2 separate regions of the Homo sapiens genome follow, and region 2 is linked to region 1. The links come from fine-mapping of genetic effects on gene expression. Tissue or cell type: fibroblasts. Region 1 holds a variant in brackets; the other region holds the start of a gene. All regions are shown on one strand. Distances are from middle to middle.

The links. PIP is the estimated chance that this variant, and not a neighbour inherited with it, causes the effect.
Region 2: TGFBR1 starts here. The variant in region 1 is fine-mapped to the expression of TGFBR1 in fibroblasts (GTEx, PIP 0.93).

What each region holds. Positions count from the first base shown.
Region 1 is chr9:98,958,476-98,966,655 of GRCh38, reverse strand. All of the region lies in intron 2 of COL15A1 (collagen type XV alpha 1 chain), which reads right to left. Among named protein-coding and RNA genes, the nearest start is that of COL15A1-AS1, 18 kb to the right of the region's middle. RefSeq lists enhancers at 3,316-3,900, 4,401-4,901. The variant G/C (reference allele first, on the strand shown) is at 4,252.
Region 2 is chr9:99,101,636-99,109,815 of GRCh38, reverse strand. TGFBR1 (transforming growth factor beta receptor 1) reads right to left here and starts at 4,703. Exons shown (of 9, transcript NM_004612.4): 1 at 4,514-4,703. The coding sequence starts at 4,610. RefSeq lists silencers at 3,976-4,485, 4,576-5,175.

The DNA.
Region 1 (8,180 bases):
TCTTAAACACACTGGCTTCTCAGACTTCAGACTCATTTCCAGCTGCCTCCATCTTCCTCCCCTCTGCAACATGGTCTGGGTGGAGAATGTGAACAACCGGGCTTCCCCTTCTCTGTTATATACTGTTAGGGTCCTTGAGGTTTGGCTAGAGGCCTCAGGGAGGCTGCTCATGGCCTATCCGGGTGTCAGAGCATGAGCTGGGGCCATGGGGCAAGGTAGGATGGGACAGGCCAGCCCTGGAGATCCCAGGAGCAGAACGGTAAGATCCCTGGTCCTCCTGTGTGGAGAAGGCCCCCCATCTCCTCCATGGGGGTGCAGCATTGGGTTGGGAGGAGCACTGAATGATAGGAGGAGCTTGAAAGAGTATTTTAATTCTGAGCTTTCTAAGTCTTTCTCTAAGTGAAACATGGCCTGGGGTGTTTCTTGATTTCTTTGGCATGATTGATACTATGGGGTCAATGAAATCTCTTGAGTTGTTATCCACAGGCCTCAAGGCAGCCATAATTTACATCTCCCTAGGGGAGAATGGTCCTCTCTCTTCCCTCCCAGAAGAAGAGTCAGGAGGGGACCTTACTATCATTCATTCTATCCTGGGCCCAGTCTGGCCTTGTCCACAACCAGCATCCACTTTCCAACCCTGTCTGGACTTGGCGCTGGGCTGGGCTCTGGGGGAACAAGAGGACAAGGAATTGGGTCCCCTGGAAAAAAAGGACCAGACACCAACATGGGGCCCAGATACAGGTGACCTGGGCTGGGCTCTGGGGGATCAAGAGGACAAGGAATTGGGTCCCCTGGAAAAAAAGGACCAGACACCAACACGGGGCCCAGATACAGGTGACCTGAGCTTGGAGCCATAAGCAAAGGACAGGAAAGTCCTGTAGGGGCTTAAAGAGGGAGCACTCCCCGCCCACTGGGGGACACTGGGAAGGGGACCTGAAGGAAGGGCCAGTGGAGATAGGCCTGAGATGCTTCACACAGGTGAACACAGTGGAGTGAGCAGAGCATGAGCAAACCCACACAATTAGGAAAACAAGGGCCAAGTGAGTGATTCCAAGGATGGGAGAAATGGGACCCCGAGATAGCCTCCAGCATTGGAGCAAAAAGGAGAGAATTATGGATCCAGAGAGATTCAGACTTAGAAATGTTAATCTCACAACAGGCCAACCCTGAGCTCAGCACTTAGGTGCATTAGCTCACCTAACCTCAAGGCAGTCTGATGGGGTGGGGACTGTGGCTATGCCATTTTCAGATGAGATGACTGAAGCTGAAGGAGCTTAAGACTGCAGGCCTTAACTGCAGTGGTTGGGACTTCCCAGCTCTTGCTACTCTCAATTCTTTTTCCTTTAGGAGACTGGAGTCAGAGAGCCTCAAATGTCCAGCCAAGGAGACTAAAATTTATGCAACAGGCAACCGGGTGCCTTGGCAGATTCCTGAGGAAGGTTCTAGCTGACCATTTTAGGAGGAATCCTCATTTCACCCCAAGCTGCTGCCCTAGGCAGTTGGGTCCCCTTTCTTTTTCTTGCCAAGGAGAGGGTGGAATTGGGTGATCTGGAATGTGGTGCGAAGGCGATAGTTTGGCAACAGCAGGAGACATACTTTCTTGCAGCCTCTCAGCACTTGGCATGTTATGCCCTGGGCAAAATCAAGCTGCCCTGGGAACAGCCCGGGGCGTCCCAACAGATGAGCTTGTGTGAATTCAGCCAGGGCAGACAAGCAGCGCAGTCAGAACGAGCTCATAGCTTCAGTGGGCACCGTGAAATCTCGCCTACATTGGCCAAGGCGCTGATGAAGAATCAGGGTAACCTTCAGAGCTGGGAAGAACCTCAGAAAATACCCAGTCCAATGTCCCCAAGATGAGAAAACTGATGCCCAGACTGATGGTGTGACCAGCTCGAGCAGCTTTGGCATGTTGTATTCCCCCCACTGTAAGATCCAGGCCACTCTCTCCCATGACCCGGAAGATGGCATGGGAAAGGGCCTCATACAGAGCTTGGTACACACTAGGTACCCAATGTAGAAAGGAATGCATTTGAATCTGTGGTGGGGACCTGTGGTTCACATGCAATGACGTTGATGCTGCTGAGTAGGGGAAAAGAAATAACCAGAGAAATTTGTCCGAGGGTTGTTGTCAAACACACTGTGTCTTTCTACAGACTTTCCTGCTCAGTTGTGCAAAGAGACACACTCTCTGTGGGATGCTGGAGCCCCATTTGGCTCCAAAATGGGATTTGAGTTTAAGGGAACAGCCAGAACAGATGGTGACCCTGAAGTCATATTTTGAAACAGGCTGACTCTTGTTTAATTTAGATGAAAGTACAGCTTGACAGTCTCCAAATGTTTGCTGGAGGAACAGCCTGTGGACCACCAGAATAATGGGAGAGGGAATCAGACCTTCCAAGATGAAAACCCAGTGGACACCTCCTAACTAGAGACCAAGAATGGGGGGGTGGGAGGGGAGGTGACCTCGGGGGAACCCCAGGAGGACCAGCCTCCCCCAGAATGGTGCAGGGCAAAGGACGTGGAATTTGATGCCAGAGAAACTTGTATGTAAGTCCCTGCTCAGCCACGTACTAGCCAGGTGATCTTGGGCATGTTCTTTAACTTCTCTGAGCCTTAGCTTCCTTATCTGGAAATAGAGGTGGCAATACTTAGCTCTCAGGGTGGTGGCACAGGGCAAATGTCAGGTGCTAAGCATATTCTGTCCATTTTGTTCATTCATTCATTTGTTCATTCACAAATGACTATCAAGCACACACCGTCACATGCCTGGCACTGCAAGTCATGGAGATTTGGGGTGAACGGGATGGGCATGACCTTAACTTTGTGGGATGGATGGCTCAGCACTGGGTTCCCCATCCCTGGCTCTGAGCACTCCTGGGCATTACCTGCTGAGTAGCTCATATAGCCTCAGGAGGTAGGACTCCTATACCCATCACCCACCACCACCATCCAGATGAGGAAACCCACACTCTTTCTGAGCAATGTGCCCAAGTCACATAATTAAAAAAAGTGTTGAACCAGGATTTAAAGTTCATGTGATGTTTCCAAAGCTCAGCTCTAACCACACACTACTGTCAAGCACATCCCTGAGAATGGTACGGATGTGATCAAGCAGCACTGGGGAATTTCAAAATGGAGTGATGCCACCCACCTGGATATCAGAAGACGTAGTTCCAGACCCAGTTCTAGAACAAGGAACCTGTTGGGAGTCACATCGCTAAAATGTGTGTGACTCCCAGGAAGTTCCTTGCTCTCTTTGAACCTCCATCTTCCCGTCTGCAATTTGGGGGAGCTGGAATAGTTGATCCCCAAAGTCCAGCATTTTCTGAGGCCTCAGGTTCCCAGTGGGTTCTGATGGGAGTAAGGTGTTTGGGGGGACTTGCAGGCATTGTGAGAAGTGAGGCCCAGTGGGTCCTAGCTACCTAAGGTGCATAAATGGTGAACTGTGCCTTCTCACACAAGGAGCCTACGCTATGCAGCATGGACCACGCTGGGTGGAAGGCTGCCTCCAAAGAGTGATTCTTGGAAATCTTGAACCTGAGCAAGGCTGACCAGCCTCCCACATGCATATGCATGACAGCATTCTTCACATTCCACCCAAGATCTCCATGCTAAAGCAGCTCCACACGCTATTCCTGGAAAGGTAAACGTGGATGGAGAAATGAAAGCTTCTCATGGCCATCAACACACACATTTCTATTCATTCCAGAAGCATTTATTGAGCACCTGCTGTACAGCAGGCACTATTCTAAGTGCCGGAGATCCAGCAGTGATAGACAAGTTCCTTCCCTCTTGGAGCTGACAGTTCTAATCCAAAGCTTTGGAGGGCAGTGACCATCTCCATCTTGTCAATATCAAAGCATTAATAGCCCCCTCAACACACAGGTGTTAGGTATCTGTAGACAGAAAATGTCCATGTATCCTTTGCAATAATTCTAAATATCCCCCACAAGTTGGGGACCTCAAATCTGTATATAACATCATCTCTGCTAAAGCACTCTGTCATCAGATAAACCTGAGGGCCTGAGTCTAGCCAAAGAGCCCCCCAGGACCTTGAAAATTTAATTCTCTTGCTTTATCTTTAAAAGCACTTAAGTTTTGAATTCCACTCCAAACATGTGTGTGTGTTTGTTTTAATAATATAAAAATGTTCCAAATTATTCCCCAGTTGTTACTGGTCTCCTCACCACAAATTACCAACCACTGAGTAAAATCCTCCAGGAAATAAACAATGTGGCTCTTCGCATGCTA[G/C]TGTCACACAGCCAAGGACTGTGAGCACACCCATTTGAGAAGCAGGTCTCCAAAGGAATGGCTTGGACAGGAGAGGCGTAATGCATCCCCCACGTCTCACGGGTACAACCATGTCTAAAGGAATTGCTCCCCTGAGTGAAAGCATCTAAAAACCTCCCACCCGAGTTATTCCTCCCCAAACCGCATTTCTGTTCCCTGGCAAGAGAATTCTTCCTATGTTTACGGATGCACATTCTCAATACAGAGATCCAGAGAGAGATAAAAAATAAAAAGAGATCATGTCAGACCTGGATGACCTTAGCGCTGGTCCGACCTCTTCGTTGTATAGACGGGAGGAAGCTTTCCAAAGCCAGGACTGACTGGAGTCTAACCGCAGACAGCAATTGTTAGAAACCTTCCTCACTTGCCTCCACCACCTCTTTGCCAGGCAGCTGTCGTGGCCTGGGAGGCCCTGAGAGGCCAAGGTGGACCAGGGGCTCTTTGTGCTGGCTCCGGGCTTTCTTCTGACTCTGCCTTCCTGACATTTTACTGCAAGTCTCTTAAATTCTCTTCTCTTACGCTATGTAAAGGTAGAGACCCTTTGCCCCCGCCCTGAAGCAATTCACTGTCTGATAAGCAGAGGCAGGAGCAAGGCAGGTAGTAGAATCCAGGGCTTGACTGCACTCTACCTAGACCAAAGGCCTTTACCCCGGGTGGCCCTGGGCGGTAGTGCTGCAGGACTGACCGAGGGTGGGAAGCCAAGATGCTCCCCCAGGGCCAGGCTAGGAAAAACGGCTCCTGGGCGAAGGCCCTGCTTTCATCCCAGAAACTTCACCCTGCCTTCCTCCCTCAACGTGTTCGAGCCACATTCAGGCTGTCTCTTCCATCCTCTCCTCATTCTGTTTCTCTGTATCTGGAACATTCCACTCCTCTTCCAGCCCATCATCCCCACCTCCTTTCCTGGCTAAATCTGTTCACCCCTCAGATCTCATCTTAAATCCCATTCCTTGGGGAGACTCTCCTGACACCCTGGTACAGATGAGAGTGTCCTGGCATGTGCTTTCATAGCTCTCATTGCACTTTCTAACATTTTCTACCATTTATAAACATAAAGAGTCTTTTTGTACAATCCTTTATTTAGCATCAATGTCCCCCATTAGACTATAGGATCCTAGAGGGCAAGCAGCAAGCCTATCTTGCTTTTCATTTTCTGCCCAGGATATCACACATTGCTTGTATTCAGAGAACAGTCAATACATATTACATAAAAGTGGGTAAACAAATGGATGAATGAGAAAGCCCCCAGGTTACAACAGGCAGAATGGCCATTTCTACCAAGGGCAGAAACTCTGGAATGAATTCCATCCCACCCACTTTGCAAAGTCCTTGTTTAGCTATGTTTCACTTTCCCCACATCAGATTATGATTGTTTATCTCCCTCCACTGGAAGGTCAATGATTCTAAACTCCAAACACAAATGACTTGGTCCTGGCCCTTCCCATCCTCAGCAAGATGGACTTACAAATGAGTTCTCACCTCTGATGGAATAAACCCAATACAAGCAATGCTGAGAGAGGACACAGGACAGCTTAGGCACAACATCAGCTAGCACTGAGATGGAACCTTGTTACTGGCCACTCCCCTTCATTAAGGGCTTTCCATGTGCCAGGCACTGTGCTAAGAGCTTGGGGCGTTATTTCGTTTATAGTTTCCTCACTCTACAGATGAGGAAACTGAGGTTTCAAAAGGATTAGTACATTGTCCAAGGTCACCAACTGATACATGCAGAGCCTGGAACCAGGCCAGCTCTATCTGACTGCCCAGATTCAGCACTTGCCCTCCAAGCTACACAGCACTGCAGCTTACACTTGAGTGCCACACACATCACCTGGGGGCCTGGTTAAGGTACAGATCTGATGCCGTGGGTCTAGATCTGATGCTGTGGGTCTAGATCTGATGTTGTGGGTCTGAGGCAGGATTTGGGATCCTGTATTTCTTTTCTTTTTTTTCTTTTTTATTTTTGAAACAGAGTCTCCCTTTGTCACCCAGGCTGGGGTTCGTTCAGTGGTGTGACCTCGGCTCACTGCAGCCTTAACCTCTTGGGCTCAAGCGATCCTCCCACCTCAGGCTCCCAAGTAGCTGGGAGTACAGGCACATGTCACCACATCATGCTAATTTTTTATAGAGATGTTGTCTCACTATGGTGCCCAGGCTGGTCTCAAACTCCTGGCCTCAAGCAATCACCCTACCTTGGCCTCCCAAAGTGCTGGGATTACAGGTGTGAGCCCCTGTGCCCGGCCTTGGGACTCTGTTTCTAATGAGCTCCTGGATGATGCCCATGCTGCTGGTCCAGGGACCACAGTTTAAGCAACAAGTCTATCAAGGTGAAAATGCAGAGGATTTCCATAGGGCAGGCTGAGGAACAGCGCAAGCAAAGGCTTGGAGAAGGGAACATGCATGGTCAATTCAGAGACCAGCAAGCAGTTCAGGGTGGTAGAGCCAGGGTACGGGGAGGGATGTGAGAGGAGAAGAGGCCTTGAACTGCAACCCAAGGAGTGTGGAATGCATTGTGCGTCACAGAAAACATGGAAGCGTTTTGACAGGGGATGTGACATGATGGGACCTGTGTTTTAGACAAGCTACTCTGACTCACAGTGAGAAGCCATGCTAGAGGACAGAGAGATGGGAGATCCTGCTGGCCAGGGAGCTGCTGTAGCAACCCAGCAGAAAGAGGTAACACAGGCCTGAAGCCAGGCAGGGCAAGAAGATAGAAGGGAGAGGTTGCATGCAACAGACATTGCAGGGGCAGAATTAATTTTTTTTTTTTTATGGCAAGATCTCACTCTGTTGCCCAGGCTGAAGTACACTGGCACAATCACAGCTCACTGCAGCCTCATTTCTAAGAGTGGTTCCATTTGAGACTGTGTTGGAATGGTATGCAGCTCAGTTTATGTCTGTGCTCAGCTCCTGTCATCTCTGCACTGTTGCTTTAGTTCATGGAATGGCTGAGAAATTTTTCATAACTTGGAAAGAGTACTGTAGCTTTGTTTTAAAGAAACTAATTCTGGCCAGGCATGGTGGTCTCCTGGGCTCAAGTGATCGATCCTCCTGCCTCAGCCTCCTGAGTAGCTGGGACTACAGGTTCATGCCACCACACCCAGATCATTTTAGTTTTTAGTTTTTTTTTTTTTTTTTTTTGTAGAGACAGGGTCTCACTATGTTGCCTAGGCTGGTCTCGAACTCCTGGCTTCAAGAGATCCTCCCACCTCGGCTTCCTGAAGTGCTGAGATTACAGATGTGAGCCACCATGCCTGGCCAGAATTAATTTCTTTAAAACAAAGCTACAATACTCTTTCCAGGTATGAAAAATTTCTCAGCCATTCCATGAACTAAAGCAACAGTGCAGAGATGACAGGAGCTGAGCACAGACATAAACTGAGCTGCATACCATTCCAACACAGTCTCAAATGGAACCACTCTTAGAAATGGGGCGCATCAGCCATGGCTTCCAATCCAGCCACCCTATCTCCGTGATGAGCCAGCCTTTTCCTCACTTTGCGGAATACTCACTTTGAGTTTCTAAGTCCAGAGAATGGAGGGGACTTGGCAAAGCTCCTGTGACCAGGCCTAGAACCAAGGAATCCGAGCCACTAAACCAGTGCGGGGCATCTTAGAGAACTTCCCTCCGCCGAGAAAATGAAGACATTCAGTTGCAATTTGATATCAGCCCACACTTGCAAATATTAAACAAATAAAGCCACTTCATTCCTTAATGAAAGCTCATATACTAAAAGGGGAGGGGAAGACCCTGAAATGGAGCCATCTACTGCAGACAGTTAGACCTGAAATAAAATTAGAAAATATGTCACATGGAAAAACTCTGCAGTGAGAAATGGTTTCTTCCACCCCTCCTTTTTTTCTTTCTGTGGGAGAGTGAGTAATTTGGCATT
Region 2 (8,180 bases), 140 kb before region 1:
AAATATGCCAGCATCTGCCCTCAATTCCAAAAGCAGGAAGCAAAGATGTGACCCAATCACATGATATCAAACCACAGTCCATCTGTTCAGAGAACTCTGTGTTACGTAAGCCATGACCAAGGAAGAACTGCAAAAGGCAAGAGGTGTGTCGACATTTGCAAGGGGCTCTGTGGTTTGAAGAGACACGTTCTCACATCAGAAGGGCCATCCATAGGATAATGGCATTTTCAAAATTCCATTTATTACACATGAACATATTTGGTGCAATAAAATGACACTACAAGAATGGTGTTGAGTCCCTGTAACTGCTCAACTAAGGCCTAGAACCTTTTGACAGGGGTCTTCCCTACATGAGCGGCCCTCCTCACAGGAACAAGATTTATCTTCCTCTTGATTATTTTTATGTCAATTCCTCTCTTAATTTCAACAACAAAGCGGATCATCTAATATTCTAAACCAAAGCCTTCTAACTACACCCCAATTCAATTAACTGTACTTACTCAAGACCATCTTCCAAACTACTATAGGCCTACTTTTCTCAATCAATAAGTATATACCAGGTCCTTTTATCAGCAATTAAAAAAAAATTGACCTTTTCCTTGAGAACTTTAAGGCTTTAATCATTCCCCCTCCCTTCCACCTTTAGAATTCACTTTTCATAAATTCTGTGAAGTTCAAGGCCTACTTCACTTAAGGAAGTCACTCATCCCTTCGTGGATGCCAACCACCTATCCCAACCCTGTCCCACTCCCACCTCCAAGTCCTTCACATTTTAAAGCACCATATAGGGCACAAGATATGGAATCAGAAAATCAAAGTTCCTGTCTCTGTTCTGCCCCTGTGCCACCCTAAGAAATTCACCTGAGTCGTTTTTTCATCTGTAAATTGAAGTGATAATATACTTAGGACTTCCACCATTTGAATGCCTAGTCCTACTGGGCATCCCATAATGTTATTCTCCCTCACTCATTCCACTTTGATTACTTTTATGTTTTGTTTCCAGCTATGTACTATAGCTTTTAGGATTGGGGAAAAAATGATAGAGGTTAATACATCCAAATTCCACAGTACAGAATAAGGAACCTAACTCTGAAGAGTAACTTGCCAGTCAGTCAGTAAAAGCCTTGTTTCCTCCCTTGGAGTAGGCCCCAGGACAGTTGGGGACACAACTTCAAAAGAACTTTCACACTCATCAAATCCCCCTCTGAATTCTACCCACCCTTCAAAGTCAGTGTAAGTCCTAAAGTGTCCAAGAAGCCTCCCCCAATCATTCCAGCTTACACTAATCATTTCCCTTTTTGAATACTAATGCCTCCCTATAGAAATGATATTAAAAATATTTAACAACTGGCACTACAAGGGTACCAACCAATCAGAAAGGATGTTTAACCAAAACACACATGGCCCAGTGGGAACTGCTTATTGAACATCAGTCCTGCTCTTTAGCAACAACACAGAATAGCAACCTCAAACTCAAATACCACTTTCTCATGTGATCTTCACAATCTCATGAATTAGGCAAAAGTAGGTATTGCCCCATTTTCTGCATAACTGCTGGTGAAGGTAGGACAAATAACCAATTGCTTTCAACACGCCATACAACTTTTCCTGATTATTTATACGGAATTACAAGTTAATATTGCATAAACTGGACTTACATAAAACAGTATAAATATTAAAGGAATGCTCAAATAGAAATCAACAAGCATTTATGTGGAATAGAATATAAAACACAGTGCTAAGTTCTGAGGCCACAAAAGAAAGAAATGGCATGAATCTTGTCCTCTGGGTACCTATAACGCATTCAAGTAGAGTTAAGTAGCAGCACAGGCAGTAGAAATGGACAACACAAACTGTTAAGTGTTGCAGAGTTCTGGAAGACAAAGAATTCAAGAACTAAACCAGCACAGGAAGTCAGGGCTGAGAACTTCTCGCACTCCCAAAAAAAGGGGCAAAACTAAATGTGTAGTGAAAAGGCTGAACAGTCAGGAGTCAGTGAGAAAGAGAAATTGCTCGAAGGTCTGCAGTAATGAGAAATGAGATCCCTGGTAGGATACTCAGAGATGGCCCCAATCATAAGCTGCTAAGTGTTGTTCTAAGTGCTGAATACAAATGGGAAATCTTATAAACCTTCACGGGGAAGGCTGAGGAAGATTAGTTTGGCAGTAGCCATAGAAAAGCCTAGATGAGAAAAACATGGGAAAGCAACTAGATTTGGAGGATAACAGGCAGGATTAAGCTGAAGGCTGCATACCAAGAAAGGAGGAGACATTCAAGAGGCATTCATAGAAGAGTTGGATTGGGGGCACGTTTTCAAAGAAAAAAAGTTATGAAATGGCAGAAAGGAAGCAAATAGCATTCTCAGATGGGATATACATATAGACATAGTGGTACTAAACTGTGCACTAGGGATAAGGAATCAATTTCCCTAGAGAAACCTATGTTGGAGACAGAAGTTGGGCAGAGAACATTAAAACATACTCAGAACATAAAAAGGTGCAAGTCTTTAAAAGGGAAGCCAAGTTACAGAGGAAATAAAAAGCATTTGACCTTTTTCAGAATGTTTTTTAAGGGTGGACTGAGGCATCATCATAACCAACAGGGGAGGCAGACAAGCTGAGGCAGTCTGGGCTTAGAGTAATAAGCACCTGGACAGCTTTGTATTTTGTGCATACCATGGAGACTGTAAACTCCTCCAGGACATGGACTGAGCAATGTTCTGTGTCTTCAACTAAGTCCACTACTGTTACTTGAATACATGAACGCTTCTTGTGCTACTTCTGGTGGAAAAGAGTGCACTGTGTTATTCAAGTTAATAGCGGTGTGGAAATGTTACCTGTGTTTCATGCCTAACTATACTGATTCTCCCAAATGTCCACACAGTTATCCTGCCTTCCTCCCTAGGCCAATGTCAAAAATCCATTGTTTCCTCTAATGCAGGCCCACGTGAAGGGACTCAACAATGTGCTAAGAGTCGGAATGAAGCCTATCTGATACTCAAATCATGAGGACAGAATCCAAAGTGGATAATAAAGACCAATTGCTCATCAGACGACTGAAGAAGAAAAATGGGCTACGCCAGATAGTATGATGTATACATATTTATATATATATATGACATACAGGTTTGGGAAACTGAGATCTGAGTGAAAATCCTAGCTTTAGCACTTAAGTTATTGGGTACTTAACGTGTCTGTACCCCACTTTGCACATCTGTAAAGTGGGGCAAATGCCACTACTCCTGGGAGTTTACTTGTGGTGATTAAATAATGTAATTATACAATAGTGTATGCATTTACATCGTAGTAATGCACAATACATAGACGGTAGCTATTAGGACTGATTATAATCGTCACCGTCAGTCTTGATTTTTTAAAAAAATTTCAACATCTTTTGTCCAGTTTCAGAAACAGAAATGTACTTTCACTGCATTTTAGTTGCTAACACTGAGGCTGTGTATTTTAGCTTCTAGTGTCTCAGTTCAGCTGCTAACGAAGTTTTTCACTCATCCCTTTGTGGATACCAACCACCTACCCCAACCTGATTTACTATTTTGAAAAATCCAGCCAACAGTCTTCCTTGAAAACCAGCTATACAGATGTCTGAATCAAACTATTAACTGTCACTCAAGAAAAGGAACAACGTGAGTGATGTTCCTTCGAGGAAATAAAAAGCGTTTAATCAATTCACAGTCGTTCCCAAAATTTCCAAAACCCGCAGAATGAGCAAACGTTCAAGTTTCCACTATGAAAACAATCCGTAGCCGTCTGGTTACTGGACTCACTTCAACACTCCCCAGACGCACGAAAGAAGAAACATTCCGCGCATCTCCGCGCTTCCTTCTTCTCACACAAAGCCCCCCTGGCTGGAGGAGCAGCCCCTTCCAGCAGGGTCGGCTCGGGTCGAGCCGGGCGGGAGTCAGGGCGGCCTGCGGACCCAGGGGTCTCACCACACGTCGCCCCCGACTCCCACTGGACGAAGCCCTAGAGGCTCGGAGCTCACACCCCGCCCGGGAGCCGCCTTCCACCCCAACCTCAAACCCCGCCCCGGGTTCGGCAGCCTCTGGCACGGACCCTCTTGGGGCGGGGGTCCCCAGAACAAGGTCACGCCGTGCCCAGGGGGCGGCGGCGGGCAGCCACGGCTCTGCCAGTCCCCGCCGGCCTCGCACTCTCCGCCCCTGGCCCTCGCCCACTCACACCCCAGAGGGCAGCCCCGGACCTCGGACGACTCCGCCCGACTCCACCTCCCCGGGGAGTCCCGAGCGGGGCGGCCTCGGGCAGCCGGACACGTCCGCCCGCGCCCGGACACACGCCCCTGCCCCGCCTCCGCTCCCCGCTTGCGGTTCGCCCGGCAGCCGCCGAGCCGCGCGGCGCCACGAGAGCCCGGCCCGGGCCCCGGCGCCGCCACCTGCGCCCCCGGCCCCGCGCCATGTTTGAGAAAGAGCAGGAGCGAGCCAGAGGCCGGGTCCGGCCCGCGCGCCCCGCAGTCGCCCGCCCGCCGCGCCGCCGCTCACCCGTCGCCCCCGGGAGCAGCGCCGCCGCCGCCGCCGCCGCCGCCGCCAGCACGAGGAGGAGCAGCCGGGGACGCGGAGCAGCGACCGCCGCCTCCATGGTCCCGCCGCCACCGCCTGTGGCCCGGCCCGGCCCGGCCGCGCCGCTGCCTCACCCCAGCAAACCTCGCCTCGCCCCACCTCCCTAGCCGCCGCGGCGGCCTCGCTCCGGCCCTTTGTAACTGCTCGGAGGACGCGCGTCCATTGGCTGCCGGGCTCCCGCCGGCCCCGCCTCCCCGCCGCCGCGAGCTGCCAAGCGGGACCCAGCCGGGAGCCCCGCCTGCGGGCCCGCCAGGCAGCCAATCCGCAGCCGCGAGCGCCGGTTTCTGGCCACGCCCCACGCTCCCCGGGGGCTGGGCCGCCAGACCCCAGCCCCGGCCCGATCGGCTCCCGGCTCCGAGAGGCCGCGTGGGGGCGGGGTCTGCCAGCCCCAGCACCGCTCAGCCGCTAGCCCCGGAGGGCCGGGTAGAGCGATGGGTGTGTCTGTGTGAGTCTCTTTCGGAAAAAGGCTGTGGCCGTTCGACGCTCTTTTCTTCTAACCTCCTCTAGGCGCGGAAGATCTGGTACTGCCTCAGCCCCACCCTGACCCCATTCACAGCTCCGCATTGGCAATCCCAGCACATGCCACCCAGATCCGCTGCAGCGCCAGGCCCCTGCATCCACTTCAACTTCCCCTCTCCAAGTCCACGCATCAACTTCAGCATTCCCCCGAAGATCCCTCCTCAGTGCCCTTCACATGCGACTCACTCTCCTATTTCCTCCTGCTCCCAGCGGTCACCCCAAACCCAGCTCCCCCACCCAGTTCCAAACCCAGAAAGTCCTCAGATCCCAGCGTCAGACCCAGATCCTGAGCCCAAACACACCCCCAAATAGCCTCCCGCCTCCCTCCAGCACAGATCCAGGATGGGGATCCAAGCCGCACTCCTCTCAAACCCCTTCCCGATCCAGGTTGGAAAGGGAGGATCCCCACCCCAACCCCTCAAAGGAGGGGTTCCCCCTTCTTAGCACCCAGCTCCCGCGGGGCGGAGGGGGAGCAGTCATCATTACTTTGAGCTGTGTCTGACACTGCTGTATAATAATCCTGAGGTGTCACTAAAAACCCAAATAAACTCTACGTTTTCATTCTGAATTCCTAATTTACTGCGAGACGCTCCACCCACCTTCCCTCTGCGACGCCAAAATGAGCTCCAGATTTGTAATTCTTCCTGTCAGACTAGTCCTTTCTTCAGACACAAACACAGCCAAGGAGGCTGTTACGTAGAACAGAGAATATTTTTCCGCAGAACCTTTTAAGGAGGAAATTTTATTTTCTGTGTCATTTGAGCTTAGAATTAAATAAACCTTGATAGCAGGAATCAGAATGGTTCTGATTAATGCCAATTTGTGCACTACTTTAGAGTCACTGGGTGAGCATTTTCCCCACCTGTGAAGGCTTCCTTCCGGGAGATGAAAAGGGAAAAGGCGTGGATATTGGAGCTGGGATCTGAGACCCGCGCGCTTTCTCCCTCCTGTCTAGGACACTTACTTAAGCAAGTCAGCTAACCTTTCTGAACCTCCAACAGGCTCAGAGGCCTGCAACTTGCTCTACACCGCAGCTCCAGCAGCCTCAGCAGCAAACTCCCCTCTTGCTCAGGCTGAGGGATTCCAGAGAGATGGCTTCTGGCAGGCTCCAGTCCCAATTTGCCCTCTCAGTTCCAGTTTCTTCAATGGAGATTTGGTGGACTTTGTGCCACCTGAGGTCCCTAGACTGCCTTTTTGCTGCTCTATTTGCAATGTCTTTCATAAGATAAGAGCTAATGAGATTTTTATTGTATGAATGAATGAATGATCTCAGAAAGTGACTGTTTTTCTCTGGCCATTAGCTTCTTCATCTCTAAAATGTAAATAATAATAGTACCTACCCCGTTTATAAATAAAAGGGATTGAATCACTTGTCTTGGGCCCCTTAAATGACGTAATGTGTCTGGTACAGTGTCTGGAACATAGTAAATATTTAGCTAATGCCATTTCTTTGCCCATCCCCTTCCAGCTCTGTATGATTCTAATCAGCATGTATGTTCATGTCAGTCTGTGCCTTTGACGTACGGAGCCTAGATTAATCAGTGTTAATCACACCTCCAGTTCCTTAACATTTTCCGTGGAATTCAGTGGATACAATAGGAAGGAAAAACAGACTATTTTTAAGTTGTATCTTCCTGATACTAGGAGGAAATTTCCATGAGCCACAGATCCATAAATAAACTACACTAGAATGGAACACTAAATTATTAGTTTAAAATCATGGTTCCCAAATTGTAAAGTCTCTCCAATTACCTGGAGAGCTTGTAATAATACAGATTCCTGGGTCTCCCTCGGCCCTAGCAAGTCTGCTTCAGTTCATGTGGAGAAGGTTCAGGAATCTGCATTTGTAATAGACATCCCAGGTGATTCTGCTGCAAGTGGCACTGGGCCCGCTTCAAAAGACACTGCTTTACTTAAAATTCAGTAAATAAAAATGCATGACCTTATTTGCCTTTTGAGAAAGGTTGGATGGGCAGTAGAAAGAAGCCTCTGGCTTTGGAGGCCTACAGACCCGACTTGAAATTCTGGCTGCCACTCACTAGATGTGGGTCTGGGAACACTATTTGACTGCTTTGAGATTTAGCATCCCCCAGGGTAAAGGGAGATACTGTTGTGAGGTCTAAATGAGCTATTGCACATTAAGGAATCTGTCATAAATGTTAATTCCCTTCAGTCTTTACAGACTTACTTGTTGTTTAAAATGCTTACATGTTATTTACTCCAATGTCTTAATTTAAAGGGAAGGAAACTGAGGATCAGTTCCCCAGCAAGTCAGCTGCAGAGCTAGGACTAGGAGTCTCACTCCAGTGCCTTGTACCCTGTGTAATGTTGTCTCTTAATCTTTATGCCAAGGACATTGTTTGCTTTTCCTTTTGGATTAGTTCCTTAAGTAAGAGGATTTCTCCAAAATAGAGAGCAGAGACTGCTTGTCATCTAAACTACACCCATTCTTACATTTGCTTTATAATGGAGTCCTGTTTTTCTTTGGGAAAGCAGATCACCTAGAAAAAATATATATGTCAATTTCCCAGGCTCCTTGTACCTAGGTATGGCCATGTGACAAGAGTTCTGGCCAGTGACATGTAAACAGAAATCTACTTTCCACAAGGCGGAGCCTGTACAAAAGATACTTCCTAGTTAAAAAAAGAAGAGACTCATCATATTCTCTCTTTCTCCCTGGAACACAGTTGCAATGCCTGGAGGTACAGCAGCCATTTTGTAAACATAAAGGCGATAGCCAAAACTGAGGACTGTAGAGAGAAAAAATGGAGAGAGTCTAGGTTTTTGATAAATTTCCTGAACAGTTGCACCAGCTCTATAATGCCTATTTCTTATTATATGAGAAAAATTAATCTATTTTTTATTCACTTTGAATAACTGCACCAGCTCCATAATGCTTATTTCTTATTATATGAGAAAAATTAATCTATTTTTATTCACCTTAGAATGCTTCTATTCTGCTCATTTGTCCATCCTATTTATTGTTGCATATTTTATTTCTATCTTATTTTCTAACCTACAAGACATTATTGACTTCTGCCATTATTAGCTATTGCTAATTCTTGGTGCT